Homo sapiens: one gene and its partners. The main gene of each other region encodes a partner of the protein of the gene in region 3 in a complex. Each region holds a gene or a part of one and is shown on either strand. Other genes may lie near its edges. The genes, in order: RNASEH2C, RNASEH2A, RNASEH2B and PCNA. A codon is read from its position in the direction of its gene.

The links.
Region 1: the proteins of RNASEH2B (region 3) and RNASEH2C are in contact, whole or in part, in a crystal structure (PDB 3PUF), measured with the Homo sapiens proteins. Residues at the interface, in NP_078846.2 of Homo sapiens: Arg14, Gln15, His16, Val17, Phe18, Leu19, Val20, Ser21, Glu22, Leu24, Leu35, Met36, Phe37, Val38, Lys39, Leu52, Glu62, Lys64, Phe66, Glu68, His70, His71, Ser72, Trp73, Phe74, Ile75, Asn76, Gln77, Ser78, Val79; in NP_115569.2 of Homo sapiens: Ile9 (codon at 4,545), His12 (codon at 4,554), Arg13 (codon at 4,557), Val14 (codon at 4,560), His15 (codon at 4,563), Leu16 (codon at 4,566), Ser18 (codon at 4,572), Ala27 (codon at 4,599), Thr28 (codon at 4,602), Leu29 (codon at 4,605), His30 (codon at 4,608), Leu31 (codon at 4,611), Leu32 (codon at 4,614), Pro33 (codon at 4,617), Cys34 (codon at 4,620), Glu35 (codon at 4,623), Val36 (codon at 4,626), Ala37 (codon at 4,629), Val38 (codon at 4,632), Asp39 (codon at 4,635), Gly40 (codon at 4,638), Pro41 (codon at 4,641), Ala42 (codon at 4,644), Pro43 (codon at 4,647), Val44 (codon at 4,650), Gly45 (codon at 4,653), Phe48 (codon at 4,662), Phe63 (codon at 4,876), Val75 (codon at 4,912), Pro77 (codon at 4,918).
Region 2: the proteins of RNASEH2B (region 3) and RNASEH2A are in contact, whole or in part, in a crystal structure (PDB 3PUF), measured with the Homo sapiens proteins. Residues at the interface, in NP_078846.2 of Homo sapiens: His16, Phe18, Lys39, Asn42, Gly48, Ala49, Ile50, Val63, Lys64, Val65, Phe66, Lys67, His70, Phe74, Val79, His86, Phe87, Val183, Tyr211 (codon at 7,197), Gly214 (codon at 7,188), Leu215 (codon at 7,185), Asp218 (codon at 7,176), Tyr219 (codon at 7,173); in NP_006388.2 of Homo sapiens: Val227, Phe228, Ile253, Trp254, Glu255, Ser284, His285, Tyr287, Phe288, Arg291, Gly292, Leu293, Glu294, Ser295, Ala296, Thr297, Ser298, Leu299.
Region 4: the proteins of RNASEH2B (region 3) and PCNA are in contact, whole or in part, in a crystal structure (PDB 3P87), measured with the Homo sapiens proteins. Residues at the interface, in NP_078846.2 of Homo sapiens: Asp290, Ser292, Gly293, Met294, Lys295, Ser296, Ile297, Asp298, Phe300, Phe301; in NP_002583.1 of Homo sapiens: Met40, His44, Val45, Ser46, Leu47, Glu124, Leu126, Gly127, Ile128, Pro129, Phe207, Ala208, Asp232, Val233, Pro234, Tyr250, Leu251, Ala252, Pro253, Lys254, Ile255, Glu256.

What each region holds. Positions count from the first base shown.
Region 1 is NC_000011.10:65,717,505-65,725,278, reverse strand, and holds RNASEH2C (ribonuclease H2 subunit C), read left to right. Parts: upstream 1-4,480; 5' UTR 4,481-4,520; coding exon 4,521-4,692; intron 4,693-4,861; coding exon 4,862-5,037; intron 5,038-5,114; coding exon 5,115-5,234; intron 5,235-5,469; coding exon 5,470-5,496; 3' UTR 5,497-6,097; coding exon of another isoform or gene 6,098-6,232; 3' UTR 6,233-6,324; coding exon of another isoform or gene 6,325-6,406; 3' UTR 6,407-6,529; coding exon of another isoform or gene 6,530-6,689; 3' UTR 6,690-7,606; downstream 7,607-7,774. Other genes in the region: histone acetyltransferase KAT5, read right to left, coding at 6,098-6,232, 6,325-6,406, 6,530-6,689.
Region 2 is NC_000019.10:12,802,277-12,809,692, forward strand, and holds the start of RNASEH2A (ribonuclease H2 subunit A), read left to right. Parts: upstream 1-4,307; 5' UTR 4,308-4,397; coding exon 4,398-4,524; intron 4,525-4,731; coding exon 4,732-4,803; intron 4,804-4,929; coding exon 4,930-5,053; intron 5,054-5,142; coding exon 5,143-5,230; intron 5,231-7,416. Other genes in the region: THSD8 (thrombospondin type-1 domain-containing protein 8 precursor), read left to right, coding at 1,828-2,027. UniProt on the Homo sapiens protein: Catalytic subunit of RNase HII, an endonuclease that specifically degrades the RNA of RNA:DNA hybrids. Participates in DNA replication, possibly by mediating the removal of lagging-strand Okazaki fragment RNA primers during DNA replication.
Region 3 is NC_000013.11:50,947,661-50,955,197, reverse strand, and holds part of RNASEH2B (ribonuclease H2 subunit B), read right to left. Parts: intron 7,212-7,537; coding exon 7,130-7,211; intron 5,736-7,129; coding exon 5,693-5,735; intron 5,173-5,692; coding exon of another isoform or gene 5,089-5,172; exon of another isoform or gene 1,294-5,088; coding exon 1,213-1,293; intron 1-1,212. UniProt on the Homo sapiens protein: Non catalytic subunit of RNase H2, an endonuclease that specifically degrades the RNA of RNA:DNA hybrids. Participates in DNA replication, possibly by mediating the removal of lagging-strand Okazaki fragment RNA primers during DNA replication.
Region 4 is NC_000020.11:5,116,787-5,124,284, forward strand, and holds the start of PCNA (proliferating cell nuclear antigen), read right to left. Parts: upstream 3,173-7,498; 5' UTR 3,013-3,172; coding exon 2,792-3,012; intron 2,081-2,791; coding exon 1,983-2,080; intron 1,892-1,982; coding exon 1,824-1,891; intron 879-1,823; coding exon 684-878; intron 1-683. UniProt on the Homo sapiens protein: Auxiliary protein of DNA polymerase delta and epsilon, is involved in the control of eukaryotic DNA replication by increasing the polymerase's processibility during elongation of the leading strand.

The DNA of each region.
Region 1 (7,774 bases), on a different chromosome or scaffold from region 3:
TTTCCTAGCTTTGTCCACTGGAAATATCTAGAAACAAAGGCTAACTCAGTAGCAATGAATACATCTAGTATCAGATTGGATTACTAAATATCATTTCCCACTGAAGGGAACCAGCGATCTTTGGAGAGATGTATAATTCCAAGTCTGGGGCAGGAAATGTACAAGATGAGCCAGGAACATCTTGTGGTACTGGAAAACAAAGATATGTATAAAAGATCACTAGGGTCATATCGAAAGATTCAGGAGATAACTTGAAGAGGCTTCCACTGGCAGAAGATGGGGAAATTTGCACCTCAGTAAGAATAATAACCACAATTATGTGAAACATAAAAGTGTTAATCCATTATTTATTATTTTTATTTATATTTATTTATTTAATATTTATTTAACATTTTTAAAAGGTCACCATTGGAATATGCTAGGGCAACAAATCATTATTTTAAGAACTGGAAAATAAAAGGATTTTTTTGAGATGCAGTCTCGCTCTGTCACCCAGGCTGGAGTGCAGTGGCTCGATCTCAGTTCACTGCAACCTCCACCTCCCGGGTTCAAGCAGTTCTCCTGCCTCAGCCTCCTGAGTAGCTGGGATTACAGGCATGCGCCACCACGCCCGGCTAATTTTTGTATTTTTTAGTAGAGATAAGGTTTCACCGTGTTGGCCAGGCTGGTCCCGAACTCCTGACCTCAAGTGATCCACCCACCTCAGCTTCCCAAAGTGCTGGGATTACAGGTGTGAGCCACTGTGCCCGGCCTAATTATTTTGTCTTTCTTATCCTCACTGTACCAACAGGCAATCAAATGGCTGATGGGGAGAGTTTTTCTTTATAGACCTATTTCAGCTAGTAAATGAAGAAGAAATGAGAGGACTTAGAATATCAGTTTTAGGCTGGGCACCATGCCTCACGCCTGTGATCCCAGCACTTTGGGAGCCCAAGGGAGGGGAGCAGATCACTTGAGGTAAGGATTTGGAGACCAGCCTGGCCAACATGGTAAAACCCCATCTCTACTAAAAATACAAAAATTAGCCTGGCATGGTGGCATGCGCCTGTAATCCCAGCTACTCAGGAGGCCAAGGCAGGAGAATTGCTTGAACCCGGGAGACAGAGGTTGAGCTGAGTGAGCCAAGATCGCGCCACCGCGCTCCAGCCTGGGCTACCAGGTGAGACTCTGTCCCAAAAATATGTGTGTGTGTGTGTGTGTGTGCGCGTACACACGCGTTTTAACCTCTAATGAATTAAAGGATCTAGGCAATGATCATCTATGGCTGCTAACCTCACAAAAAGAGGGAAAAACACAAAACCACCCATGAAGTAGTCTTGCCCTCTCCCCTCCCCAAAGAATCGAATTAAGCTTCTAGATGTAATTACAGAAAATACAGGTATAGATTACCTTGACACTATAGGAATGCAATTACTAATATCCAGACTACAGGAAACTTGCAAAACCAAAAACATAAAAATAAAAAATAAGATCCAACATCTACTCCCAATTTTTAAAAGCTCTTAGTAGTACAGCTTTAATGAGACATATATAACAAGTCAAAAGGCAGTTTCATGATTATTGGTGAAACAGCAGAAGCACTCCCGTGAAAGTTTCAGGAAAAAGACAATGTTGTCCTCTGATACCAGTAACATTTGAGAGACTGTTCTGCAAGTACTGGCCAAGGCAATTAGAAAAGAAAACAAATTACAAGGTGTAATGAAAAAAAAAAAACAAAAAACAAAAAACAAAAAGAAGATGTAATGGTGAGGTAAAAATTATTATTTGAAAGAGAGGTGACTAATTCTGGGGATCTTAAAATAAAATAAAAATCATTAGGAACAAAATAATTCAGTCGATATCTAGTTTAAAAATGGACATATAAAAATCAACAGGTTTGCTATAGACAAGGGGTCTGAAAACTATGGCCTGTGGTTCAAATCCAACCCCTTGTCTGTTTCTGCAAAGATTTACTGGAACACAACAACGCTCATTCATTTATGTATTGTCTATGACTGCTTTCATGCTATAACGGTGAAGTTGAGTAGCTGCGACAGAAGCCATAAAGTCCACAAAACCTAAAATATTTACTATTTGACCCCTTACAGAAAAAGTTTGCCAACCCCTGCTATAGATTAAAAAGAAAATCAGTTAGAAAATAAAATGAAAAAAATAAAAGCCCCAATTTTGGTTTTTAGAGAAAGGGTCTCCCTCCGTAACCCAGGCTGGTGTGCAGTGGTGCAATCGTGACTCGAACGGCAGCCTCAAACTCCTTGGCTTAAGTGATCTTCCCACCTTAGCTTCTTGAGTAGCTGGGACTACAGGCACATGCCACTGTGCCCCACTCATGTTTAAAAAAATTTTTTTCTTTGTAGGAACGGAGTCTTGCTATGTTTCCCAGGCCGGTCTCAAACTCCTGGCTTCAAGCAATCCTCCCCCATCTTGGCCTCCTAAAGCACTGGAATTACAGGTGTGAATCATCATGCCCAGCCCCTCAGTTCTTAATAGAAACAATTATTAATATAAGCTAAGAAGAAATAAACTTTACAATATGTATTAATAGCTATTATATATGAACAAAACCTCACAACTGTACAGATATCCAAGGAGATGTGAATAAATTGAATTATGTCTTTCCTGATAGAAAACTAAAGCAAGCCTTTTTCTAAATTAATCTGCCACTCTAGTGAAAGAGCACCAGGAATACATCTGCAGTTGAACAAATTGGGTATATTACTCCTGCACTCTGGGGAATTTCAATAAGAGGGTGCTAGAAAGGACTTATAGGAGGATTTGTGCCCATGTTCAGTGATTTCAGTCAGGGTTTAGGGAAGCCAGGCTTCTCTCTGGCTTGGATGCTGTCAGAGGTGGGGGTATGTCTATGACGGACTATCTTAATGAGTCTTGCCCAGAAGGAGAGAAGATTAGTTGGAGGCTAATGCTGTAATTGGTAAGGAAACAACAGTCACTCTCTTATGGGAGAAAGAGGGATGTTTCATGCCTTTTGTGGTTTGGACAGTGTTCACCTTTGCCAGCATTCAGATGTGACGATGGAGTGGTTCTGTTTCTGTCTTGCTCCCTCACGGTCACAGAGTGACCTTGTCCGATGCTGATGTTCTCTGAAATTGTTTATATTCAACAGAATACCAAGGCCAGCTCCCAGATGTGCAGGGATGTATAAATTAAACGCAATTTAAATCTAAATTTCCAGTTTTGTGTTTGTTTTATGTGAGAACTTGAAAAAATATATCTAAGTTGGGTGTCTGAACAAATAAACATTAGAGAAGAGCTGAGAAACCAAAGAGAGAAAATTGTGAAATCTAAAAGACTGAAAAGTGTTGATAAATTTGACTACAAAAAATTAGTCTTTGTCCTGGGTGCAGTGGCTCACGCCTGTAATTCCAGCGTGATTTGGGAGGCCAAGGTGGGCAGATCACTTGAGTCCAGGAGTTCAAGACCAGCCTGGGCAACATGGCAAAACTCCACCTCTACCAAAAATACAAAAATTAGCTGCGTGGTGGCGCAGGCCTGTGGTTCCAGCTACACAGGAAGCTGAGGATGGGGGATGGATTAAGCCTGGGAGGTCGAGGCTGCAGTGAGCCAATCAAACCACTGCACTCCAGCCTAGGCGAGTGAGACCTTGTCTAAAAGACCAAACAACCACAAAAATAAGTCCTTGTCCAGCAAAAATCACCTTTACACAGGTTTGCAAGACAGACCACAGATAAAACATTTTCAATGCATTTAAGAAAAGGGTTGATGTCCCTAATAAACTAAAAATGAATAACCTACCTACTAATCAATATAAAAAGAGTACTTTTCAGAATCGTTTTAGATTTTTACAACGACATGTGCCATTAAAAACAATAAAAGAAAAAAACCCGGCTGGGGGCGGTGTCTCACGCCTGTAATCCAAGTACTTCAGAAGGCCGAGGCTGGAGGATCGCCTGAGGTCAGGAGTTCGAGACCAGCCTGGCCAACATGGCGAAACCCAGTCTCTACTAAAAATACAAAAATTAGGTGGGCATGGTGGTGTGCGCCTGTAATCCCAGCTACTCCGGAGGCTGAGGCAGGAGAATCGCTTGAACCCGGGAGGCGGAGGTTGCAGTGAGCTGAGACCGTGCCTGGCACTCCAGCCTGGGCGACAAAACGAGACTCTGTCAAAAAAAAATAATAATAAATAAGAAAAAGAAAGAAAGAGGGAAGGACGGGAAGGAAGGGAAGGGAAGGGGGGAAGGAAGGGAGGCAGGGAGGAGGGGGAGGGGGGAGGGGGAAGGAGGGGGGAGGGGGAAGGAGAGGGGGAGAGGGGAGGGAGGAAAGAGGGGAGGGGGGAAGGAAGGAAGGAAAAAAACAAAACACAACTGGAAAACCCTAGGACTTGAACCCAGGGAAAGCGTTAGGGGGTAAGGGGACTACACTTCCCGTGAAGCTCCGCGGCGGCTTCCCGTGAGGCCCCGCGGAGGCTTCCTGAGAGGTCCTGCGCGCTTTCCGCGCCAGCTTCAGTGTCAGCTCGCGAGCCCTGGCGTCGCGTAGGAGGGAGGATGGAGAGCGGCGACGAAGCGGCCATCGAGAGGCACCGCGTCCACTTGCGCTCCGCCACATTGCGCGACGCCGTACCCGCCACACTGCATCTGCTGCCCTGCGAGGTTGCGGTGGACGGGCCCGCCCCGGTGGGGCGCTTCTTCACGCCCGCCATCCGCCAGGGCCCCGAGGGTGAGCCCTGCGGCCGGACTACGGCTCCCGGCAGCCCCCGCGCCGGCCTGCGCGCTTCTCATCGCCTGGGCTCCTGGGGATCGTGGTCCGTCCGGAGGTGGCGGGAGGGCAGCTCCGGGCTCGACCCAGCGTGGGTCCTGCCTGAGGCCCTTTGCGCCTCCCGCTCCAGGACTCGAAGTGTCGTTTCGGGGCCGCTGTCTACGGGGAGAGGAGGTGGCGGTGCCGCCTGGCCTCGTGGGATACGTGATGGTGACAGAAGAGAAGAAGGTGTCGATGGGGAAGCCAGACCCCTTGCGGGATTCCGGGACTGACGACCAAGAGGAGGAGCCGCTGGAGCGGGACTTCGTGAGCAAAGGGATAGGGTTGAAAGGGGGTGCGGGCGGGAGCTGTAGTCCCGATGCTGAGCCAGGCCCCTTCCCCAGGACCGCTTCATTGGAGCCACTGCCAACTTCAGCCGCTTCACCCTGTGGGGTCTGGAGACCATCCCTGGCCCGGATGCCAAAGTGCGTGGGGCCTTAACTTGGCCCAGCCTTGCGGCAGCGGTGAGTAGACGAGGAGTTCCGTCTTGCCCCCGGGTGGATGGGCTGGGGAGCACAATTGCGCAGACGGAGCCTGGAGGATTCTACTGGGTAGTGTGTGGGAAGCGTAGCTCCCTGACCACTCTTCCTAGCATGTCTAGAAGCGGTTATTCTGAACAGCTGGGTCCTTCCTCGGGTATGGGGGCCAGCTTGCCGCCCTGTCTTACAAGTCCAACAGTAGAGGCGACTCCTGTTGCAGATTCACGCACAGGTGCCCGAGGACTGAGAACCAGAGCTTGAAATTCAAAGCTGCGATCCCTTCACAGCAGTAAACCAGCTCTTTGGAACCGATTCCATCACCCCAATAAAGGAGCTCTTCACAGCACCTGTGAGTCTGGGCGCCTTAGAGCCCCTAAGCCAGCATGGGCCCTTTCCCCCTCCCCACCAAGAACTTTGCATGGCTCTGGCATATAGAAACAATTTATTGCCGGGGGCAATAGGGGTAAGAGAAGCCAGAAATTTTTGCAGCCAGCACCCACCCCACCCCCAACTTCTACTTTACAAAAGAAATTTTTACAATCACCAGCCCTCTGTACAGAGCTCCCCCATCCGGATCCCTTCTCACTGTACACAGCTGCCTGGCTCCCTCTGGTCCCTGCTTCAGAGGAGGCCTGGGCCTGTGGCCAGCTGACCTTGGAGTTGGTCTGAGCCCGGAGCTCGCCTTGGTGCTGGGCACCAGTGGGCCCCTGCCAGGCCTGTCCTCTCCTTTTTGAGCTGTCCTCAGCCCCATCTCCCTTAGAGTGCTTTGTGGGAGCTGCAGTGGGGGCGGGGTGGGCTATCAGCCCCAGTCCTGCTGCCGTCTTGGCACTGCAGTGGGCAGTGTCTGGTCACCACTTCCCCCTCTTGCTCCAGTCCTTGGGAGTGAAGTGCAGACACTTGGAGTCGATCCGCAGGAGCCGCTTGAGCATGGCCCGCTCATGGCCATCCACGATGTCCTCTGACAGTGTGAGGATGTACTGGCCCTGGGCAGAGGAGATGGGTTCAGCAGGTGGTCAGCCCACAGAGGACTGCACTCTGCATCCCACACACCTGTCTCCCCTGCCTGCCTCCCTACCTTGTAGTAGTTGATGAGATTGAGGTACTGCAGAGTGGAGATGACATCCTCCTTCTTGATGCTGGTGATTTCACTAATCTCACTGTGGGAGAGCACAGGTCAGGTTCCCTGAGGACCTTTATCTGTCCCCAGGAGCCCTGAGAGAGAAAGCCCAGGAACAGACAAGCCATGCCATGTACCCCCAGGTAGACAGCGCCAGGCTCACTTGATGGTGATCTGTGGCCTCTCCCCGCTCTCCGACTTCAGCCCCATCAGGATCTCCAGGATGGTCTGGGACCAGTAGCTTCGATAGGATAGGAGGCCAAGGTCTGAGAGGGGCTTCTCAGGGGTCCCTGTTTTCCCTTCCACTTTGGAGAGTTCATAGCCTAAAGCAATGGAGCAGGAGAGGGTGAGTAAGAGGTCACAGATGAACATAAGCAACATTTAAAAACACAGGTTGCCAAGGCAGGCTGCCTAGTTCCTATCATGGCCCTGCCACTTGGCAGTTCTATGCCCTCCACTTCTCTGTGCCTCAGTTCCCTCAGGAAGAACTGAGTATTCACTCTTTCCGTGCGCTGAGCACAGTGGAGGGCATGAGGGCACTGAGAGGAGCAGCTGCAGTCAACCATGAGGGTGATCAGAGGCCAGTGAAGGCTTATGGGCAGGGGATGCAGAGAAAATGGCTCATGGGAAGAAGGGGCCTCCAATTTTCCTTTGCCATCCCGGGCTCTGTGTCTAGCCATGTAAGGAAGTGGAGACAGATTCCTGTCTCTAATCCAGACCTGAGAATGCTTGAATTCTCAAAGTCCTCCTAGCTGGGACCTTGGGAGTGTCACCTGCTGTAAGACTTGAGTGGCCTGACTGGGTGGTTGTGAGGATGCAAGGAGAAAAGGTGCACCAAGGTGCTTCCTAAGTCGGGGAGACCATTCCTGGGAGCCACGTGACTGACCCCCACCATGGCTCTTTCCCTCCAACTCGTGCTGATAGCTGGCCGCTGGGAGGCCGTCCCCAGTGAGATCCTCAGACCCTGCACAGCCCTGAGTGGCTTCACATCTCTTGGTCAGTGTCTTCATTCTCCCCAGTCAGGGACCTGGGATGTTTGTTACTTCTAGAAGCCCTTCCTCACCCTCATAATGGACCTTAGCCCCTTGCTGGTCCCACTCACATCCCGTCTCCATTGCTGTCTGAGTTCCAAGACTGAGTTTCTTCAAGCATCCACTTGTGCTACCAGGCTGAGAAGTTCTGAGGATGTGACCCCATCTGGGCATCATTTAACCAATAAAATTTCTCGAATGGACCATAACCTTGATCAGGTAAAGCCTCTGTGTCTTCACCAGGTCAACAGCTAGAACTTCCTCCTTGTTTCTCAGGTCAGAGCTTGGTTATTCCAAGTGAGTGGTGAGACAGACAGAATGGGGGGTGATGGGGAGTAAGAGGCTGGGAAGAAGGGGCCTCAGGGTTGGGGAGGGCA
Region 2 (7,416 bases), on a different chromosome or scaffold from region 3:
CTGCTGGCTGCAAAGGGACCTTCCTCGGCGGGCTGCAAATCTCCACCCAGCTCCGCACTGGAGGCGTCCCCTTGGGCTGGTTACTTTTCTCTAAGGCTCGGTTTACTCTTGGATATATTGAAATAGATACTGCTTTAAAGCAGCTCCCAGGGGAAGAGAGGGTGTGGGCAGGACACTGAAGCTGTCACTCGGGGATAGGTGCCAGGAAGGGCAGAGACAGAGAAAGAAGGGGGCGGGCAAGCTTGGGAAATCAGAGAGGGTCCGATTGCAGAAGACCCGTGACCAGTGCAGCGAGAACGACAAGCGAAAGTCCCATATGGAAAGATTTGGGGAAAGAATGTCCAAGGAAGAGGGAATAGCAAATGCCAAGGTGAAAAGTCCTGAAGGAGAAATGGAAAGAGGTCGGTGAGGTGTGGCAGAGACATGGGTGTGGGAGGGTAGGAGGTGTCAGACCTTGGTGAGCGGTGAGTTGGGATAAGATCGGAGTTGGGATAAGATCTGTCTCATAGGGGAAAGGGGCAGATTCAGTAAAGAGCCCTTTAAAGTGATCACAGTGGCCGGCGCGGTAGCTCACGCCTATAATCCTAGCACTTTGGGAGGCTGAGGTGGGAGGATCCCTTGGTCTCGGAGACCAGACCAGCCTGGCCCACACAGCAAGACTCCATCTCTACAAAAAATATTTTAAAATTAGCCTGACTTGATGGCCCAGCACTTTGGGAGGCCGAGGCGGGAGGACTGCTTGAGCCCAGGAATTCAAGACCAGCCTGGGCAACATGGAGAGACCCCCTACTCTACAAAAATAAATAAATAAATAAAAATAAAAAATAAATTAGCCTGCCATGGTGGCATGCGCCTGTAGTCCCAGCTACTCAAGAGGCTGATACAGGAGGACCATTTGTGCCAAGGAGTTTGAAGCTGCAGTGAGCCATGATTATGCCCTTGCATTCCAACCTGGGTAACAGAGCAAGATCTTGTCTCAAAATAAATAAATTAAATAAATAAACAAACTGATCATAATAAATTGGTTTGTATATGCTAGCACAGCACCGGGAGATTTACTTACCTTCATTATGTCAATTATGCCATTTATCACTTGACAACCCTGCTGTCAGGTGGCATTGTGCCTTCTAGGTAGGGCCATGGTCACACCCCTGAAGACAGAAGTCAGCTTCAAATGGCGGGCACCAAGGATGTTGTAGGACACTCACAACTGGGCAGGCTGGCACAGCCTGGAAGTGTCAGGTTGTAGTTCCTCTGGCCCACTTACCCCGTATATGAGCTTGGAAGGTTGGCTTGCTGTCTCTGGGTCTTGGTTTCCCCACCTGAGACTCGTGGAAATATTAAATGAGGCCAGGCATGGTGGCTGGCTCACACCTGTAATCCCAGCACTTTGGGAGGCTGAGATGGGAGTATCACTTGAGCCCAGGAGTTCCAGACCAGCCTGGGCAACATGGTGAAACACCGTCTCTGCAAAAAATACAAAAAATTAGCCAGGCACAGTGGCATGTGCCTGTAGTCCCAGCTACTTGGTAGGCCGAGGTAGGAGGATTGCTTGAGCCCAGGAGGTTGAGGCTGCAGTGAGCTGTGACTGCGCCACTGCACTCCAGCCTGGGCGACAGAGCGAGACCCTGTCTCAAAAAAAAAAAAAAAAAAAAAAAAAAAGCTTAAATGAGATAATCTGTGGCAGGGTGTCTGGCATAGAAGCAGAGTCTAGCGAATATGTGCTTCTCTTATTCGTTAGTATCTTTATCTTTCTCCCTCTCTGGGGGAGGGGATTGGGAGTAGGCCCCCTCCACGTAGGTCTTCACCTCTGCCCTCCTTCTCTAGAAGTCGAGGACTCAATCCTTGGCCCGTGGGGAAAGTGGCGGTGTCTCTGCGACCTGGGCAAGCAGGAGCGCAGCCGCGAGGTAGTGGGCACAGCGCCGGGCCCGGTTTTCATGGACCCGGAGAAGCTGATCCAGTTACGGCCCTGCCGGCAACGGGATTGTCCATCCTGCAAGCCCTTCGACTGCGACTGGAGGCTCTGAGCCCGGGTGAGAGAGCAGGGCCGGGGCAAGTTGCGGGGCCCAGGGTGGGCGCGGAGGGAGGATGTGCGGTGCGGGGCGGGTATGAAGCGAGTTTGAGGAAGGGAGAACTGGGGCTCCAAGTCTTGAGTGACTTGAGGCTGATTTGGTTAGGGGGAAGCTGAGTCAGGAGCCGTGAGCCCCGCTGATATCTAGGGAGAAAAGGAGAAAAGTGGAGGGGGCGCCGGGCGCCGGGGCTCACGCCTGTAATTCCAGCATTTTGGGAGGCCGAGGCAGGCGGATCTCTTGAGTCCTGGAGTTCAAGATTAGTCTGGGCAATATCGTTGAGATCACCTCTCCATAAAAATTTTTAAAATTAGGCCGGGCGCGGTGGCTCACGCCCGCAATCCCAGCACTTTGGGAGGCCAAGGCAGGCGGATCACAAGGTCAGGAGATCGAGACCATCCTGGCTAAAACGGTGAAACCCCGTCTCTACTAAAAATATAAAAAATTAGCTGGGCGCGGTGGCGGGCGCCTGTAGTCCCAGCTACTCGGGAGGCTGAGGCAGGAGAATGGCATGAACCCGGGAGGCGGAGCCTGCAGTGAGCCGAGATCGCGCCACTGCACTCCAGCCTGGGCGACAGAGCGAGACTCTGTCTCAAAAAAAACCAACCAAACAAACAAACAAACAAAAACATTTAAGTTAGATGAGCGTGGCGGCACATGCCTGTGGTCCCAGCTACTCGGTACGATGGGGAGGAAGGATCGCTTGAGCCTGGGAGGCAAAGGTTACAATAAGCCGAGATCGCTACACTGCTATCCAGCCTGGGCAACAGAGTAACATCCTGTCTCAAAAAAAAAAAAAAAAAAAAAAAAAAAAAAAAAGTGGAGGGGGAGGCGAAGAGGAGTAAAAGGAGATAAAGAGACAATGAACTAGGACCCTGAGGAAGGGGCATGAGCCTGGTAAGGGGCGGGAACCCACAGGCAGAGGACATGAGCCCCAGTGAGCCCAGGGAATAGAAGTGGTGGATGCCAGGCACTGTGGCTGGCTCAGGCTTGTAATCCCAACACTTTGGGAGGCTGAGGCGACCGGATCGCTTGAGCCCAGGAGTTTGAAGCCAGCCTGGGCAACATAATGAGACCCCGTCTCTACAAAAAATACCAAAAATAGTCGGGCATGGTGGTGTGGTGTGCACCTGTAGTCCAGCTGCTTGGGAGACTGAGGTGGGAGGATCGCGTCAGCCCAGGAGGTGGAGGTTGCAGTGAGCCAAGATCGCGCCACTGCACTCCAGCCTGGACAACAGAGAGAGACCCTGTCTAAAAAAAAAAGAAGGCCGGGTGCGGTGGCTCACGCCTGCAATCCCAACACTTTGGGAGGCCGAGGCGGGCGGATCACAAGGTCAGGAAATCGAGACCAACCTGGCTAACACGGTGAAACCCCATCTCTACTAAAAAGTACAAAAAATTAGCCGGGTGTGGTGGCGGGCGCCTGTAGTCCCAGCTATTCGGGAGACTGAGGCAGGAGAATGGCGTGAACCCGGGACGCGGAGCTTGCAGTGAGCGGAGATGGCGCCATTGCACTCCAGCCTGGGCGACAAGAGCGAGACTCTGTCTCAAAAAAAAAAAAAAGAAAAAAAAAAAGTGGGTCGAGGGGTGGGGGTGGGGACATTCATTCTAAGTTGGGAGGAATGAGCTTCTATAGGGAGCAGAGACCCTGAGCAGGAGTCCACCGAGGTCTGTGATCTCCAACGGGGGTGGGGAAGGCTTGGCCTGAATGAGACAGAGGTTAGGAAGCACAGATCTTGCACGGAGTGGAGGTGGGCCGAAGGGAGCAACCAAGAGAGGGAGTTTGGGGACTCCAAATCCAAAAGCCTGGGTTTAGTGGAAGCGGGGCTACCTGGTCCAGGGGACTTAGAATGTGTACAGAAGCAGGGACCGCAAGTACAGGGCCTGAATCCAAGTGGCAGTTGGGGACCCAGTGATGCGGTGACCCGTGTCCTGGGAGTGGGGTGATATTTGACTCTCTAGTTCCCCGTTAGGCTGGGTCTTCGAAGCTACGTCTCAGTTTCCCTCTTATTTCCCCCTCTTCCCACCGGGCCACGCAGGCGGGGCCCCAGAGACCGTGAAGCAGAGCTTGCAAAGTGACCCCGTCCACCGAATTCCCCAAGCTGAGTGTTCGGCCATAGCCCTTCGGGACTACAATTCCCAGGAGGGCGCACGGCAGCGACGTCGGCGTCGGCTGCGTAAGCGTCCACGGCGGCGGGAGCGCCAGGGGCGTGTTCTGCCCGCGGATTGGCCGGAAGCAGGCGCCGCTTCGAGGCCCGCGGAAAACGCGCGCCGAGACCCGCTCCTGCAGTATTAGTTCTTGCAGCTGGTGGTGGCGGCTGAGGCGGCATGGATCTCAGCGAGCTGGAGAGAGACAATACAGGCCGCTGTCGCCTGAGTTCGCCTGTGCCCGCGGTGTGCCGCAAGGAGCCTTGCGTCCTGGGCGTCGATGAGGCGGGCAGGGGCCCCGTGCTGGGTGCGCCCCTAGGGCCAGGGAGGGGAGGGGCGTGGTACGGAGGATGCGGGAAACGGGAGTCGGGATTGCACTGCACCAAGGGAGGGGATGTGGTCGTGGTGATGGCACCTAAAGAAGCAGTGATGATAGAACAGGGATGAATGGCAACTTTCACGGGCTCAGTGATTGGACCCCGGCTGCCAGAAAACTGACACCCCTTCTCCCCAGGCCCCATGGTCTACGCCATCTGTTATTGTCCCCTGCCTCGCCTGGCAGATCTGGAGGCGCTGAAAGTGGCAGGTGAGCCCGAGGTGTGCGTCTGGGGAAGGGATTCCTGGGTATGTGCAGGGGCAGGTGAGAACTGAAAGGGGAGGGCAGGAACTGGGAGAACCAGCTGTTCCCCTTCTCTTCCAAACCTCCTCCCAGACTCAAAGACCCTATTGGAGAGCGAGCGGGAAAGGCTGTTTGCGAAAATGGAGGACACGGACTTTGTCGGCTGGGCGCTGGATGTGCTGTCTCCAAACCTCATCTCTACCAGCATGCTTGGGCGGTGAGGGGTCCCCGGGAGGGGCAGCCAGCATGGGCTGACCAAGCTTTGTTCCTAGAATGAGATTAACTGGGCTCTGTTCCCCACCACAGGGTCAAATACAACCTGAACTCCCTGTCACATGATACAGCCACTGGGCTTATACAGTATGCATTGGACCAGGGCGTGAACGTCACCCAGGTGAGTTAACTGTAAGTTGTCCCCATTTGGTCATCTCAGGATAAAATGGGGACAAAACAGGAGTTCGAGACTGCAGTGAGCCATGATCATGCCACAGCACTCCATCCTGGGTGACAAAGGAAGCCCCCCAACTCAAAAATGGAGGCAGGGCGCAGTGGCTCACGCCTATAATCGCAGCACTTTGGGAAGCCGCGGCGGGTAGATCACCGGAGGTCAAGAGTTCGAGACCAGCCTGACCAACATGGTGAAACCCCGTCTCTACTAAAAATACAAAAATTAGCTGGACGTGGTGGCAGGCGCCTGTAATCCTAGCTACTCAGGAGGCTGAGACAGGAGAATCGCTTGAACCCAGGAGGCAGAAGTTGCAGTGAGCCAAGATTGTGCCATTGCACTCCAACCCGGGCAACAGAGCAAGACCCTGTCTCAAAAAAATAAAAAATAAAAAATAAACTAAAAATGGGAGACCAGGCGCAGTGGCTCACGGCTGTAATCCCAGCGTTTCAGGAGGCTGAGGCAGGCAGATCACCTGAGGTCAGGAGTTGAAGACCATCCTGGCCAACATGGTGAAACCTCATCTCTACTGAAAATACAAAAAATTAGCCCAGCATGGTGGCGGGTGCCTGTAATCCCACCTATTGGTGAGGCCGAGGCAGAAGAATTGCTCGAACCCGGGAGGCGGAGGTTGCAGTGAGGTGAGATCGCGCCATTGCACTCCAGCCTGGGGGACAGAGCGAAAAATAAAAATAAAAATAAAATAAAAAATAAATGTGGGCAAAAATGTGCAGTGTGCAGATTCAGCATCAGATACGTCTGGAGTGCCTCGGGCATATTCATTGCTACTGTTGATTTCGTGCTCCTGTTTCTGCCCTAAATGTGTGCCACACTGACGACCACAGTGTAGCCCCTAGTCCCGTCTCCATCTAATCTCTCCCTCATCCTAAAGGCTCAGTCTCCAGAACAAATCCTACATTGTCTACCTGTCACCTCTGTCCTAGCCCAGGACACCCCCCACTCCCTGGACACCTGCTGAGTGTCGTCTCTCGTCCCTCACCCTCCTATCCCCTCCAATCTGTTCCCCAAGCAGCAACAGAAGGTAGTCTTTTTGAAATGCACATCTCGACATTTAGTTTTCCGATCACAGTGGAAATTAAATCAGGAAAATTCACAGTCGAGTGGGGCAGAATTACATTAAATTACCAGAGAAAAACATAAATCAGCATTGCCTCGAATGCTCTCAATGAAAGAATGGACCGTTCTGAGAGAATAACAAGGCAAAATAACCTTGACGTAGGAATTGTATGCTGGGTATGGTGGCTCACGCCTGTAATCCCAGCACTTTGGGAAGCTGAGGTGAGCAAATTGGTTGAGGCTAGGAGTTCCAGACCAGCCTGGGCAACATAGCGAGACTCCATCTCCACAAAAAGAAGAAGAAAGAAAGGAATTATAGCAAGGTAGACCCTGCTGAGGAGGGACCTGAGGACCAGGCCCAAATGCAGAGCTGGCGATACAGTAACTGGTGTAGACAGACAAGGGCCCTACCCGTAGGCGTTCAGGGCCTAGCCTGGGCAGAAAGATGGTCAGCTGGAGGTTGGGCGCAGTAGCTCACGCCTGTAATCCCAGCACTTTGGGAGGCCGAGGCGGGCGGATCATCAGGTCAGGAGTTCGAGACCAGCCTGACCAACATGGTGAAACCCCATCTCTACTAAAAATAAAAAATAAAAAAATAAAACATGAAAGATGGTCAGCTGGTAAACAAAAAATAAAGGTTGTTTCTGAAAACAGTAGTGCTGTGGAGATACCACTTTCCCCCAGCAGCTCTTGGACCCTCTCTTCGGTGCTGCAGCCAAAGGCCCCCATGCATGGGCCCAGCATCATGAACCTGGTCCCAGCTCAGGGCCTTTGTACTGGCTGTTCTCACACCTAGAGCCCTCTTCCCCAGATCTCTGCACAGTTCACTTCCTCACCTCCTTCAAGCCTTTATTCACCACTACACCTAGCTAACTTTTTATTTTTTGTAGAAACAGGGTCTCCATATGTTGCCCAGGTTGGTCTCAACCACCTGCCCTCAAGCGATCCTCCCACTTCGGCTTCCTAAAGTGTTGGGATTACAGGCTTGTGCTAACGCACTCTACCAATTTTTTTCTAGTGTTTTCTGCCACCTCAGTTCCTAGAACAGTATGTGGCAT
Region 3 (7,537 bases):
GAGATGGGCAAGGCCTTCCTAAGCATAAAAACAATGGAAAAATCATAAAGGGAAACAATTTCTGTACTTAACACTCAGAAAAATTTAACACTGTTAAAAAATCAAATGAAAAAGTTAAAACAAGTTTGTATCCTATATTTCATGAAAAGTGTTAATAGCCTTAATTTAGAATGAGCTCATACAAAGCAACAGAGAAACATTACTATCTCAACATAAAAACAGGCAAGCGACAGGAACCAACAATTTGCAAAAATGCAAATGGGCCATAAGCATTTGGAAAAAGAACCTTTCTAGTTAAAGAAATGTAGCCTAATTTGACAGGCAACAATGTTCAAGAATAAAAGCAATACTCAATGTCGTCAAAAATGCAAGATAAATACTCATTGGCAATAATGTTTGGAAGCACAACTTTCTCCATTTTTGAAAAGCACTTTAGCTATATATATTTCAATTATGAAAGAATTCATGTTCTCCAAGCTCTTAGTCTTAGTTCAAAATTGTGTCTAATGAAATGATTGGAGATACAGACTGTAAATAAGAATGTCTATCACTTCAATAAAAACAAAAAATAAAAAAATCAGAAGTAACCTATATGTCCAAATATAGGGAAATGATTAAATTACATTCCATATGGTGAAACAAACACCCATGACTGAATATCATAAAAACATGAATATTTTTTCAAAGAATGTTTAATGATATGTGAACATTTTCACAATTTAATGTTAAATAAAAAGCCCAGAACTGAGTATTATAATGCCAATGTTAAAGGCCACATATGTATTTATAATGCATGTATAAAACTAAGTAAGGACTGTTACCAAAATGCCATTTGCCAGGGTGAATGCTGAATGGTGAAATTATTAATTTTTATCATCATAATTTCTGCTTCTGGGCAGCAGGGTTGACAAAAAATTACCTGTAGAGCTTCCTCCCTCCTTTCCCACCCTATCACTCTATGAATACATAGCAAAATTTAGGCACACTCTTGATAAGTAGTATATTGTTTTTCTCTGACTAATAATAAGTCTTAGTTGCTTAACATTTTCATTGTCATATGCAATTCTTAATTATTAAGTCACAGAAATGCAAGTTAATAATTCTTCCTGGTCAAAACTGTAATCACAATCAAGCGTGCAACTGTTCCTCATGTATTCATGCACATCACGCACTGAGTATGAACGAAACACCACTACACCTGAACCCACATACCTTTTCAGTCTTCAAATCTTTAGTATTAAACTTAGTGTAATCTTCTTTTGCTTCTACAGGCTCATCTGATAACTTTATTTTCTGCAACATTAGAGCAGTGAAGTGGTGTCAAATGTCACTTTGACACAACATCAATCCATTAAAAAAAAACCCAACATGTATAATTTAGACCTCTACAGAGGCGAATGGGACAGCAGACCCAGCAAAGGGCTTACTTTTTACAGGCTCCTTTACATTTTGCCAATCATCTAGGGAATTGAGCCACACATCACTCCTAAGAAGCAGCCTTGGTGATGGTGGATATGATTGGGTAAGTACATGGCTGAGCCCCTTAGCTGGTCCAGCAAACACAGGCTTTGTAGGTGCCAGGTGTGGTGGGCATGAGGGGATTGCTAATTACCAGATGAATGCAAGGCACAGAAGTCAAAATGAGAATAGTCTCTTGAAGGGGGCCAGGTGTCCAGCCAGAATCCCTATTTCATTTACCTCCTGGGCCAGTTTAATGTCCACTTATGAATGAAGGGACAATATTTATCTTACTTTATCCATGCAAGAACAACCTTGCACAAGCAAGCAGCCAGTAAGAGAGGGAAGCACAGAGAGGCTAAATGAATAGCTTAAGGTCACCAAGTAGAGGACTTTGGCCAAGATTTCAATTCTGATACAGTGTTCTTTCCATTAGGCCCAATGCAACTAAGTCAGACCTTTACTTAATATTTTCTCCTTTCACATGAACATTTTACACCAGTGAATGTGAGAATCTTGTCAAGGCCTTAATGATCACAATATAGAAGAAATCATGCCACACTTATTATGTAAAAGGTACAAAAGCAGGGAAGACAAGTCTTGCTGTTGAACATGGAGAATTGACTGCATGGTGATCACAACCCAGATTTTTATAATTTTCAGGCTGTTTATGGAGACACCAGGTTGACCAGACCCAACATGGATCTAACCTAGGAAACAGACTTCTTCCCAGCTTCATTCTTCATGCCCCTGCTTTGCTAAACAAAGAACGGGTAGAGTTGGTGCTAAAAGATTCCACAGCCCATGGTGTTTTATCCCATAACCCAAGAGGATAAAACACCATGTCTTAAAATTGTTTGCTGTAAAAAAACAGAGGCTCATCCTGGGAATATACCACACACTATAGGAAAACCTCTTGGCCACACAGCAACCTCTAGCAAATGAATCATTAAAAGAAAAAGACTAATCCATCACAAATGAACCACCTATCAGCACCAAGTGAATGTATATTTGCAACTTTGTTAAGAATATATGTTTCAGCTTGGTGCAGTGACTCATGCCTGTAATCCCAGCACTTTGGGAGGCCGAGGTGGGCGGTCACTTGAGGCCAGGAGTTGGAGATCAGCCTGGCCAACATGGCAAAACCCCATCTCTAATAAAAATATAAAAATTAGCTGCGCATGGTGGCATGTGCCTGTAGTCCCAGCTACTCCGGAGACTGAGGCACAAGAATTGCTTGAACCTGAGAAGCAGAGACTGCAGTAAGCTGAGATTGTGCCACTGCACTCCAGCCTAGATGACACGGCAAGACTCTGTCTCAAAAAAAAAAATACATGTTTCTATTTAAATTAAGACAGCAAAGGGTGTTTAGGTGATGCACATTTTTTACTAGAAAGGTATCTTCAGCTAGGAGGGTGAAACTCACAGCTAATAATGCTGAAGGCCAAAATATTTTCAAAACACAAAAAGCTTGAAGTTATGAGGATGCTTGTGTTCCTTCTCTATGGCAAAATGTTCCTAACACAGATGTCATTATAAACACTTAGACATTATTCCCTTTTTTTCTTTAGAGACAGGGTTTCACTGTGTTGCCCAGGCTGGAGTGCGGTGGCTATTCATAGTTGCGATCATCATATACTACAGCCTTGAACTCCTGGGCTCAAGCGACCTTCTGCCTTAGCCTCCTGAGTAGCTAAGACTACAAGTGTGTGCCACTGAACTGATGAGGTTCACTTTTCATTGATAATTCAAATAAAAAGTGTTCATTACAAGAACTTAAGATGAAAGGTACTTTTGTATGGACATAAAATGTTTAATTGGAGAAATGACTTGTTCAGGTGTTTTAATAGCTCACAACAAAACAAGATACCAGTTACAAGTGTTTAAAAAAAGAAAATGATTGTGGTAGCCTCTACATATAACTAGTTTGTATGTTATTCCCAGTGCACTGTTGAATATATTGGAAAAAAAGATGATTGAAGCATTTACTAAAATTTTTGTTATTTAAAAGACCAAATCCCTATGGATTTGGGAGATTGTTTCAGCAGAGAAGTGGCTCAGAAAGACAGTAACAAAGGCTATGACTAAATGGATACAGTTCTGGAAAGAGAACAAACTGCAGAGTACCACAGGGATAATGTTAGGCCTTCTTACAAATGATTTGCAAGAAGGAACTCGGGAACATCTCCAAACCCACTGGTTGCATTCAACTCTGCTTGCTGACAGTGACAAATTGAAAAGACTGGAGCAAGTGAGGGTTGGAAGCTGAGTTTCAACAAAGGCAGACATATGATAGTAAAGGAAAATAATATAAAACATATTAAAGATGACAGGCTCCACGCTATCGATTACAACATAGATACAAAGATACCTAATGACTACTGGAATATATTTCCTGGAAACAGTCAACTATATTACTGTAAAAATCAATCAAATCCTGGATACAGACAGGAAAGCTAGCAGAAGATATGTTCTACGCTTGTTTAAACGATGGTACATCGTCTAGTATAGTTTGTCATGTGTACACTGGAACCCCAGAAAGACACAGAGTAGAAGACCTCGAAAAGCAACTCAAATAATATAGAAGACAAGGCTGGGGTTTAGGAAGAGCAAGATGCCAAAATCAAAATCAGGGCTTGGCAAATGATGGCCCAGGGGCCAAATCCAGCTGGCTGCCTGCTTTTATAAATGAAGTTTTACTGGAACACAGCCATGCTCATTCGTTTATGTATTATCTGTGGCTGTTTTCACAATACAACAGCAGAGTTGAGTAGCTGCAATAGAGTCCATCTGCTTCATGGAGCCTAAAATATTTACTGTCTGGCTTTAGAAGAAAAGGTTTGCTGATCTCTGATCTAAATCATAAATGATGAAGTCACAAACAACTTAAATTCTGAAAATTAAAATAAGAAAACAGAAATCAGGAGCAGAGAAGAATAAAGTTATGAAACATATTACTCCAAAAGGTATCCAAGGTTAAAGCTTTCAAGAATAGGTTTAGATCAATTCATGAATGATCTCTAAGTTACTAAGGAAGATAGATATTTGGGAGAAAAAAATCTGCTTCATTTTTGGATGAAGAAAAATAAGAAGCACGCTGAGAACCTACCCTCTTAGTTTCAGCAAGACAACTGTGCCTCTCTAGGTCCTCTAGAGCTACTGTCAGAGATTAACTACCGGAATGAAAGACGCATGGGTCTGGCCTAGAGCAGTCCTTAGATCTTACAGCAACAGACTTCTGCCCAGTGCTATTCTCCAAGAGAGTAAAACATGCATTTTTTTTTGACAACATGCTGAACATAGGCCCAAACAAACACTGCTGTACTTTCAATTTTCTGTCCTTTTCTAAGGACAATGTCTTTGGAGCCACCACCACCTTTATACAGGGAATGACATAAAAAATTATGAGCATTTTAGCTACCTTGAAGGCCAAGAAAACAATGCAAGGGAGAAGGAAAGTTTGTAACATCCACAATATGTCCATTTTACATTCTCAAGGCATCCGTTACTTTGCTGGCTGAAGAAATGACCTCACTGACAAGCTGGTGCACATGTTTATTTCCCTGTCTTGGAGCAGAGTTTAACTCATCTGAGATCTGGCCTGGGCTGAAGGAACGCTGCAATTTGCAGTCAGGTGTGGTTTATGATTGGCTTCTCCATTCTCTGGATCTAGGAGATAAACATACCAGCTGCAGAGGAGCTGTGGGTAGCAGCCTGAGAATGAATGAGGAAAAGATTTTCCACTAACAAAGATTACACGTAAATTCATCAATCATTTCAAATTCAGAAAAAAAGTGATCATCTTTGCTCAAAGGATTCTTTGTATTATGGAAATTGTTTTCTGTTCACCTTTGTGCCAGTGACAATTAGATTTGGCAAAATGAGTTTTAGTTATATATAGAGTATGCTTAGTGATTACTAAATTTAATTAAGTGATCTAACTAATGCAGGAAGATTTAATTTTAACTATATGTCTTTAATATTTTCACAGGGGTACCTTGCTAAAACCAACTCTTCTTGGGTTTTCATGGCACTTTATTTACCATTCAGGTGGAATCCACAAAAATAAAAAATAGTGATGGAGAGCCCAGTACAATCTTTATTCCACATGGCATCACTCCATGCAAAATGGATTTAGTACACCTTAAAATATATTAGAACCAACTAAACTCATGTGGTAAGAGTGTAATATTTTTCTAAGTCCCCCAAAGATATCTTAGTCACAGCTTCTTACCTTTGATGGAGGATTTGGCAATGAGGCTGAAGGTTCTGGAAGCCTAAGAAAGTTAAAAATAACAATCAAAGTCATCGTTTTTCATAGACAAACAAACAGAAAGACAGGGCCAACTTAAGACTTAGTAAGTCCTACTTTTCAACTTACAGCTTTACCTCCATATATCTTCCTGTTCAATCAACTCAGTGTAAAGAATGAAAGTTTTCTCAATAAATGAGTCTTTATTTTGATATGTAAGTCCTTGTTTTGGTGTTGTCTGAACTAAAAAATAAAATTAGAACCCATCTGTTGGAACAGAGTTCCTTTTCTTTAGCCTCTATAAATTTGTGTTTCGGTGTTGGAGTATTTTTTCTTCATAGTGAAGATGCTAACATATATTTAAAGGTGAAAATCATTTTAACTGTTCACAAAAAGCCACATAAATTTCAACTTTTCTTCCATTAGAAAGCAGTTTAATTGGCATACCTTTCTTCTGAACTCTTCAACCAAAACTTAAAAATGTTAGTGGAAAGAAAGGAATCTATACAAACAATGGAGTACAAAGACATGAGGTCTCTAACAAGACAAGCAGCATAGAAATCTGGGGATATATTAAGCAGAAGGATATGATTATCAATTTGAAGCAGGCTTTCAGCACACTTTAACTATTATAGAAACCAGTTTCCAATCATTGTTTTTTAAAGTAGGACCTCTGGAATTTGCTAAAACCAACAACTGTATCTATTAAAAAGTCATTTTATCTTCATGACTCAGAGGATAAAAAGGATTTATAAGGATCAGGAAAAGCTATTAAATCATCACACACATAAAATCTTAACAACAAAATTAAGTAACGATTTTGCAAAAATCTAGAAAATAAACACTTCTAACACTTCTTTTTCAACTTAAAGTCTAAATGTATAAGCTCTTTATAAAGAAAGGAACATACATTAAACCATTCTTAAAACCCTTCTTCTGCCCCTCAAAGACACAGATTGTGTTTCATATTACTTTGACTTCCAAGTCTTTGGCATAAAGTCCCTTTAGTGAACATCTAGTGATAATAGTGAAAATGATATCAATATTTTGTAAATTAAAAAAAAGTCTATATTCCATCTACTCTTTCCATCCCTCCTTTCTTCCTCTTAAAACGATCACAAAGAACCAAATTAGTTAAGTATAATTGAGGATAAAATTTTAACATAGTTAATCCTCTAAAATCAGACCAAGCCATAATTCCAATCTTGACATTCACTAGTTCCTGCAATCCGTATCCATCAAATCAGTTCATTCCAATCATCCATTAAAAATCATCCCCAAAGCACAAAGTATATGACATAGCTGAAGAATAATCTTGTATCATAAACAGTGATATGATAAGCCATAAGGAAACCCCACTGCTGGGGAAACCAAGAAGCAAATGGTACTTCATTATGACTGAAGATAATCAATACTCACTTTAAGTATTTAGATAAGTCATCACTTAATTCTTTAGGGATGTAGTCAGATATCAGACCATGGGCATAACGAATATAATCCTCTGAAAGAAACAGAAGGAGGAGTGAAAGCAAAAAAAAAAAATAGTAATTATGGTGGTTTTATAGTCAAATTGACCTGAATTCAAATTCTGACCCTATCTGGATAAAGGGAACTCACTTAAGCTCTAGCCTCAGTTTTCTCATTTGTAAAATGGGGATAGTAATATCTATCGGTCAGACTAGTGGGAAGATATGAGGGATGAGATATGACATGTGATGATACCAAAGATATAAGATAAAACAAGTATAATACAGTAGATGCTCCCTAAATGACATTAAAAACAAAAACTCAGGGTTGCTTTCTTATTTGAAACCACTGAATACAAAT
Region 4 (7,498 bases), on a different chromosome or scaffold from region 3:
GGATTACAGGTGTGCGCCACCACACCCGGCTAATTTTTATATTTTTAGTAGAGATGGGGTTTTGCCATGTTCTTTCTATTTTGGTTAAACAAGGGCTCTCTAGGTACTCTCAAAGTTGCATGGAGTCTGCTTTCTAGCCTTAGTGAGAAGTCTCCTTCCTGTTTAACCTTTGATTCCTACAGCCTGTGACTTTGGCTAAATTGTCACTTAAGGTTGCTCAGCCTGCTTCTCCACCTTTAAAATGGGCTACCAATTGGACCCACAACATGTAAGCTAATATTAGGATTACATAAGTGCTCCAAACAGGTAGACTTTTACTCCTAACCATATCCTTCTATTGAGCTGCTGTCCTATGCTCAATTATTTGGTAAGAGAGTAAGTATCTCCAGAAAGCTAAAGGTTATACGCCTAACTTCCCAATCCTACCCTTAAGAGCCGGTGTGGACTTGATCCATAAACCACTGTTCTGTGGTATGTACACGTGCTGAATTTGTATTCCCTTCTTGCAAATATAATTCTAAATTGGATGACACTTATAAATCATTCGCAGATTTCAACAGTATCTCAATTTTCAGAAATTACTTGGGATCCAATTCTGTCTACTTTTAATTTTAGCAATTAACCTAATAAGCAGTATTATAATTCTCTTCAAACTATTTTCTTTTTACTTAAAAACTACTTACAGCTTCCTCCTCTTTATCGACATTACTTGTCTGTGACAATTTAATGTTTCCATTTCCAAGTTCTCCACTTGCAGAAAATTTCACTCCGTCTTTTGCACAGGAAATTACAACAGCATCTCCAATATGGCTGAGATCTCGGCATATACGTGCAAATTCACCAGAAGGCATCTTTACTACACAGCTGTACTCCTGTTCCTATTAAGAACAAAAATTTTCCAAAAGTTAATTGTTAGAAATTTAATGATTTGGCACCCTCACTTTCTTAAAAGGCAACACCTAAACAACTCAGAATCAATATTTTCTGATTACTTTAAAATATGACTTGCGTAATTTCTTAACAAACTCCACTCAAAAAAATAAATGGCTATTAAATGCACCATCCAGGGAACAAGAGCCTCCTCCTCCTCATCCTCCAGGGATAAAGTAAGAGAACATTAGAGTATGGCACAGAAATCATGATGGCGCAAGCAGGCCTAACTACTTTCTAAAAGAAAGCAAGAGAATATATTAGGCATTTTCAACATTCAAACATTTCTTCTCTCCTTTGGTGTTTATAAACCTAACCTGGATAAATTTCTTCCAAGTCAGCTTTAAAATCCACTTAATAAAAAGCAAGCATTCTAGAAGGAAACAAATTTTAAAAGAGGTTCATGGAAGTTAATGCAAATAGACAACTGGCAGTAAACAATAAATTTAACCTGTGAGTTTTAGACTTGTGGTGAACAACTATCCAAATACTAAAATCTCTCTTTGAAACATGCACCAGTAGATATATTTCTAGAAAAAGTTGTTATGAAGTAGGCTTAAATTATATTAACATATCTTGACGGAGGAGGATCACTTGAGGCCAGGAGTTCCAGACCAGCCTGGGCAAGACTGCCCCCACGCCCACACACAAAAATGAAAAAATTAGCCAGGTGTGGTGGGACAGGCCCGTAGTCCTTCCTAGCCACTTAGGAGACTAAGGCAAGAGGACTGCTTGAGCCCAGGAATCCCAGGTTAGAGAGAGCTATATGGCACTACTGCACTCCAGCCTGGGCAACAGAGCCAAGACCCTGTCTGTAAAAATAAACAAACATTCTATGACATAACTATCGTGCCTGTGTACAGCACTCTCTACAATGAGAAACTGATACTCACTGGAATTCCAAGTTGTTCAACATCTAAATCCATCAACTTCATTTCATAGTCTGAAACTTTCTCCTGGTCTACCAAAAGAAAGCAGATGCTTTTGAGAAATACTGACACAGAGTTTTGATTTTCTGTAGCTTCGTGACTCGGTAAAAAGGTACGACTTACTTGGTGCTTCAAATACTAGCGCCAAGGTATCCGCGTTATCTTCGGCCCTTAGTGTAATGATATCTTCATTGCCGGCGCATTTTAGTATTTTGGACATACTAGAAGACAGGAGACACATGCTTTAAAATCAACGCCGTCTGCTGAAGGGCTGTATTTCGAACGCGGTTAGAAGGGGTTACCACTCTCACCCATCAGGCCGTCTCAGAACTGGTGGAGGGTAAGCGGACTGCTGGAGGATGCCATTATTAATGCAGACGTTTTGGGACGCATCTGGCAGTATTTATACTAAAATACCACCAGCAGTGTCCCTTCTGGATAGAAACAATCTCCTGCCACTAAGTAGGATGACAGGCTGCCACATTTCTCGCAAGGGCATTATAAAGCATTTAAAGTCAACCGCGACTGAGCCGGGAGGATCGCTTGAGCCCAGAAGTTGGAGACCAGCCCGGGCAACACACCGAGACCGTCTCAGAAACAAGAAAGCCACAGCTAAAGCGTCCATTCAAGGCCAACAGGATTTAGTGAGCAAAGAGCCCTGGAACAGTGTTCCTGGCACTGCGGAAAAACCCTTGATTTTCCCGCCACCACCCGCTTTGTGACTTTGGCGCGAAAAAGCAGGTTCGCGCAGCAGCCAGCGCGGGCTTTTCCGAACCGCGCGCTCAGCTGGGCCCCACCCCACTGCGTGGCAGGCCAATGAGAAGGCGCGGATGGCCCACGCCAGCCAATGAGGGCTAGGCTCGAAAGCGCTCCCGCCAAGCACCGGAGGTGCAGGCGGGCCGGGGCCGGCTTCCCGGGGCCGCGAGGCTCACCTGGTGAGGTTCACGCCCATGGCCAGGTTGCGGTCGCAGCGGTAGGTGTCGAAGCCCTCAGACCGCAGGGTGAGCTGCACCAAAGAGACGTGGGACGAGTCCATGCTCTGCAGGTTTACACCGCTGGAGCTAATATCCCAGCAGGCCTCGTTGATGAGGTCCTTGAGTGCCTCCAACACCTTCTTGAGGATGGAGCCCTGGACCAGGCGCGCCTCGAACATGGTGGCGGAGTGGCAACAACGCCGCTACAGGCAGGCGGGAAGGAGGAAAGTCTAGCTGGTTTCGGCTTCAGGAGCCTCAGAGCGAGCGGGCGAACGTCGCGACGACCGGCTGAGACCTAGAAAGACAACGACCACTCTGCTACGCCTGCAACCGTTTAATGCCGCCGCGTCCGCAAGCGCGCGCTCTCACCCTGCGCCGCGTTGCGACGTCACCACGCTGTCCAGCCCACGGCCTTGCGGGGAAGACTTTAGGGCCAATCGTGTCCATGCTCCCCGCGAGGCCCGCCCCCTAGAGCATACATTGGAGGAAGCGGGCGCAGGGCGGGGCAGCGTCGCGCAGGTCTCCCCGCCTCTTTGACTCCTGAACCCGGCCGCAGAACAAGTCCGGGCATATGTGGAGATCGGGTCCCGGTCCCGGCTCGTCAAGCCCCAGCTTTATGGTGGCTCCTCAGCCTCCCACTACGTGGGTAGAAAGTTTCCAGCCACGAAAGTGAAAGTGAAATGCAAATCAAGCCTACCGGGAGGAAAAGCCTCCTTGCAGCCTGAAGAGAGTACAGCTGCTGCAAATATGCACTTTATTTTTCAATTACAGAATTGATGCGCTCGTAGGTGTCACAAGATAAAGAGGTGAATTGTTCTGTTAAACTTAGCTCCCTATCATCCTCTTAACATTCCCCCGCCAGCTCTTATAATCACTCAATCGTTCATTGTATAAAGCTTTTAAAGCTTTTTTAAAAGTTCGAATACACTTTTTTTTTTTCAAAAATGCACTCATTCCGTAAACACTTGGAAAAGTACTTAATAAAGTACATTTAATTTTATGCCACGTACATCTTTTATCATATCAGTACCTCTTTAAAACATAGCATCACATGTATATAACATAATTTATCAATCTCCTGTTGTTTAACTACAAACACCTTTGAGCACTTAGGCAATTTTGGTGATATCAACTCCTTGAAGTAATACAGCTGAGTCAAAGAGCGTACACATTTAATATTTTTTCTTTTCTTTTCCTTTCTTTTTGAGATGGAGTCCTGCTCTGTCATCCAGGCTGGAGTACAGTGGCGCGATCTCAGCTCATTGCAACCTCCGCCTCCCAGGTTCAAGTGAGTCTCCTGCCTCAGCCTCCCGAGTATCTGGGATTACAGGTGCCTACCACCACCCCCGGCTAATTTTTGTATTATTATTATTATTTTTTTTTAGTAGAGACGGGGTTTCACCATGTTGGCCAGGCTGGTCTTGAACACCTGACCTGAGGTGATCCACCTGCCTCGGCCTCTCAAAGTGCTGGGATTACAGGCGTGAGCCACCACGCCCAGCCAGAAATTTTCAATTGTTACAGGATGGACAGGATTTGTTGTTTCTCTCTTGCTTTCTTCACACCACTTCTCTTTAGTTACTTTTAATACCTTGGTCAGCAGAATTCTTTAGTTTTTCTACCATGTATCTAGGTATGGAGTTAGTTTTATTTGTCTTGTTGAGGGAACTGAAGATTCATTTCAAGTCTGACATATTCTCAATCATTATGGCTTCAAATATCTCCTCTCCTTAGTCTATTCTTTATCTCTGGAATGCCTTTCTTTCCTTTTTTTTTTTTTTTTTTTTTTCCTAGTTCAGCTGTGACTCCATACAAGGTTCTAAGATGAGTTTCACAGTCTCTTCCCTGGATTTTGTGGAGACTTAACTTTACCCTTCTGTATCAGCCTCTTAAAGCACTGGGTCAGCCTTAAAAGGGAACAGGAAAGGGCATTTCTATTATAAGATGCCTTCAATTGTAATATGTACCATTATTTTATGTAGCACAAGCAAGAAAACTGTCAAACTTTTTTTTTTATTATTTTCTAGAGAGGGGAGTCTCCCTTTGACACCCAGGCTGGAGTGCAGTGGCAAGATGACTACTCACTGCCACCTCCAACTTCTAGGCTCGAGAGATCCTCTTGCCACCTCCCAAATAGCTGGGACTACAGGGGTGCACCACTGTACCTGGCTAATTTTTAAATGTTTTTGTAGAGAGAAGGTCCCACTATGTCGCTCTGGCTGGTCTCCAACTCCTGGGCTCAAGCAATCTTCCCAATCGGTCTCCCAAAGTGTGAGATTACAGGCATGAGCCACTGTGCCCAGCCTCAAACTGTTACACAATGCTTTATCACTTAGAATTTCTTTTTTTTTTTCTTTTTCTTTTTCTTTTTTTTTTTTCTGAGACAGAGTCTCACTCTATCACCCAGGCTGGAGTGCAGTGGTGTGATCTTGGCTAACCGCAATCTCCGCCTCCTGGGTTCAAGCAATTCTCATGCCTCAGCCTCCTGAATAGCTAGGATTACAGGCATGCGCCATCACACCTGGCTAATTTTTGTATTTTTAGTAGAGACGGGGTTTTGCCATGTTGGCCAGGTTGGTCTTGAACTCCTGACCTCATGTGATCTGCCTGCCTTGGCCTCCCAAAGTGCTGGGATTACAGGCATGAGCCACCGCGCCCGGGTCTATTTTGTTTTAAAAGAACTTTTAGACTTTAAAAACATTCTTATTATATATTACTCTTGTGCAAACATGAAAAAATTTAAGCTACATTGGTTAAGGCATTCCTACTGTTTCTCCACTCAGTTAGTTGCTGATTCTGCTGTTTTTCTGTATAATATCCTACTCTGTGTTGTCAAGGGTATTGATGATGCAGTATTTTTCAATAGTGCTATTCTATTGTCTCTGGAATTTCTTGCAAGCCTCTGCTACTCATTTGTAAGTTTTGATGTTGGCACTTTCTTGCTTTATGTGTGATGGACTACCCATTTGCATACATCTCAATATCAAAACATAATACAGCATCATCTGTTTGTGGTTCTTTTCCTTTCTTGGGTCCGTTAAAATCTCAGTTCCTTTGCAAAATGTGGAATGTGTTCCTTCCTCCAGTGAGGAACATTTGCTTCACTAAAAACAAATGCATATGCTCCACTACTCTGTTTCAGTTCTGTCTGCTTACATAATAACATTTTGGTTTAATGCCAAATTACATGTAATAGATTTGAAGACATTTTAAATGACAAACTCTATCCATGGGGGATCCACCATGTACATCAATCTGTTTATTTCTGCTCTATTACAGAAGTGATGTCCTCCTAAAAGTGTCAAATGATAAAGAGGTGTACAGTTACGTAAATTTTATGTTAAACTGAAATGAGGACATAAACATGCCTATGACTGTGGTCAGAGAAGGCCTCTCTGAGGAGGTAGCATCTTATCAGAGAAGACAGCTGCTTGGAGAGTTGGAAAAAAGCATTCTAGGCTGAGAGAATAGCATGATTATAAAGGTCAGCATACTTGGAATATATTCAGACAAGTTTGATGTAGAACTCAGACTGATGTGTCTGAAGCAAGAGTGGTGCAAGGTGAGGTTGCAGAGAGGCTGGGGTGAGCTCTTGCAGGACTTTGTAGGCTCTCTAAAAGTGCAAGGGAATGTGGTCAACAGCAGATCTTTGATGTGATCCAATTTACATTTTAAGTGGCTACTCTAACATCTAGTAAAGGTACTATTGGATCAGTGGGAGAAAGAATGAAGTAAATTTTGATCAGATAATTGGTTAAACTATTAGAAAAGAATAAAAGCTGTAGACTTTTCTGGATGGGCGCAGTGGCTCATGCCTGTAATCCCAGAACTTTGGGAGGCTGAGGTAGGTGGATCATCTGAGGTCAGGAGTTCGAGACCAGCCAGGCCAACATGGTGAAACCCCGTCTCTACTAAAAATACAAAAATTAGCTGGGCGTGGTGGTGCACACCTGTAATTCCAGATACTAGGGAGGCTGACGCAGGAGAATTGCTTGAACCCGGGAGGCAGAGGTTGCAGTGAACCAAGATTGCGCCACTGTACTCCAGCCTGGGTGACAGAGCAAACCTCCATCTCAAAAAAAAAAAAAAAGACTTTTCCTAATAATTATTCACTAAATTCTAGATAAAGAATTCAAATTCAAATCTTGACCCAATAAGAAATGGAAAAATATTTTGGTAAATATTTATGAGATCTTCCTATGGGCTTCCAAACATAAGAAAAAAACCCATAAAACATAATGAATAACCATACAAGTTTTAAGACTTCAGTATGCCTCAAAGGATTATATTGGTTAGTATAGTTTAGGTTTCAGTGACAGAGAACTCAACTTGAATGGATTAAGAGAAATAGAAAATTTATTCATCTAAACAAAAAGCCAGAGGTATCTGGCCTCCACTGTCCAGTCCTAGTCTTCATAAACGTGAAGTTTGTTAGCCACATTAATAAGCAAAGAAATGTAAATTCAATGGAGACAGAATTTTAACCTACCAAATTAATAAAAATCATGTTAACACCTGGTGTGTTAGGAAGGATTCAAGGAAGTAGGCACTTAAATACATTGCAAGTGGGAGTATACATTGGTATAATTTTTCTGGTGGAAACTTAGAAATGTGTATCAAAAGCCTTAGAATTTTACTTATTCTTTGACACAGAAATTCGATCTC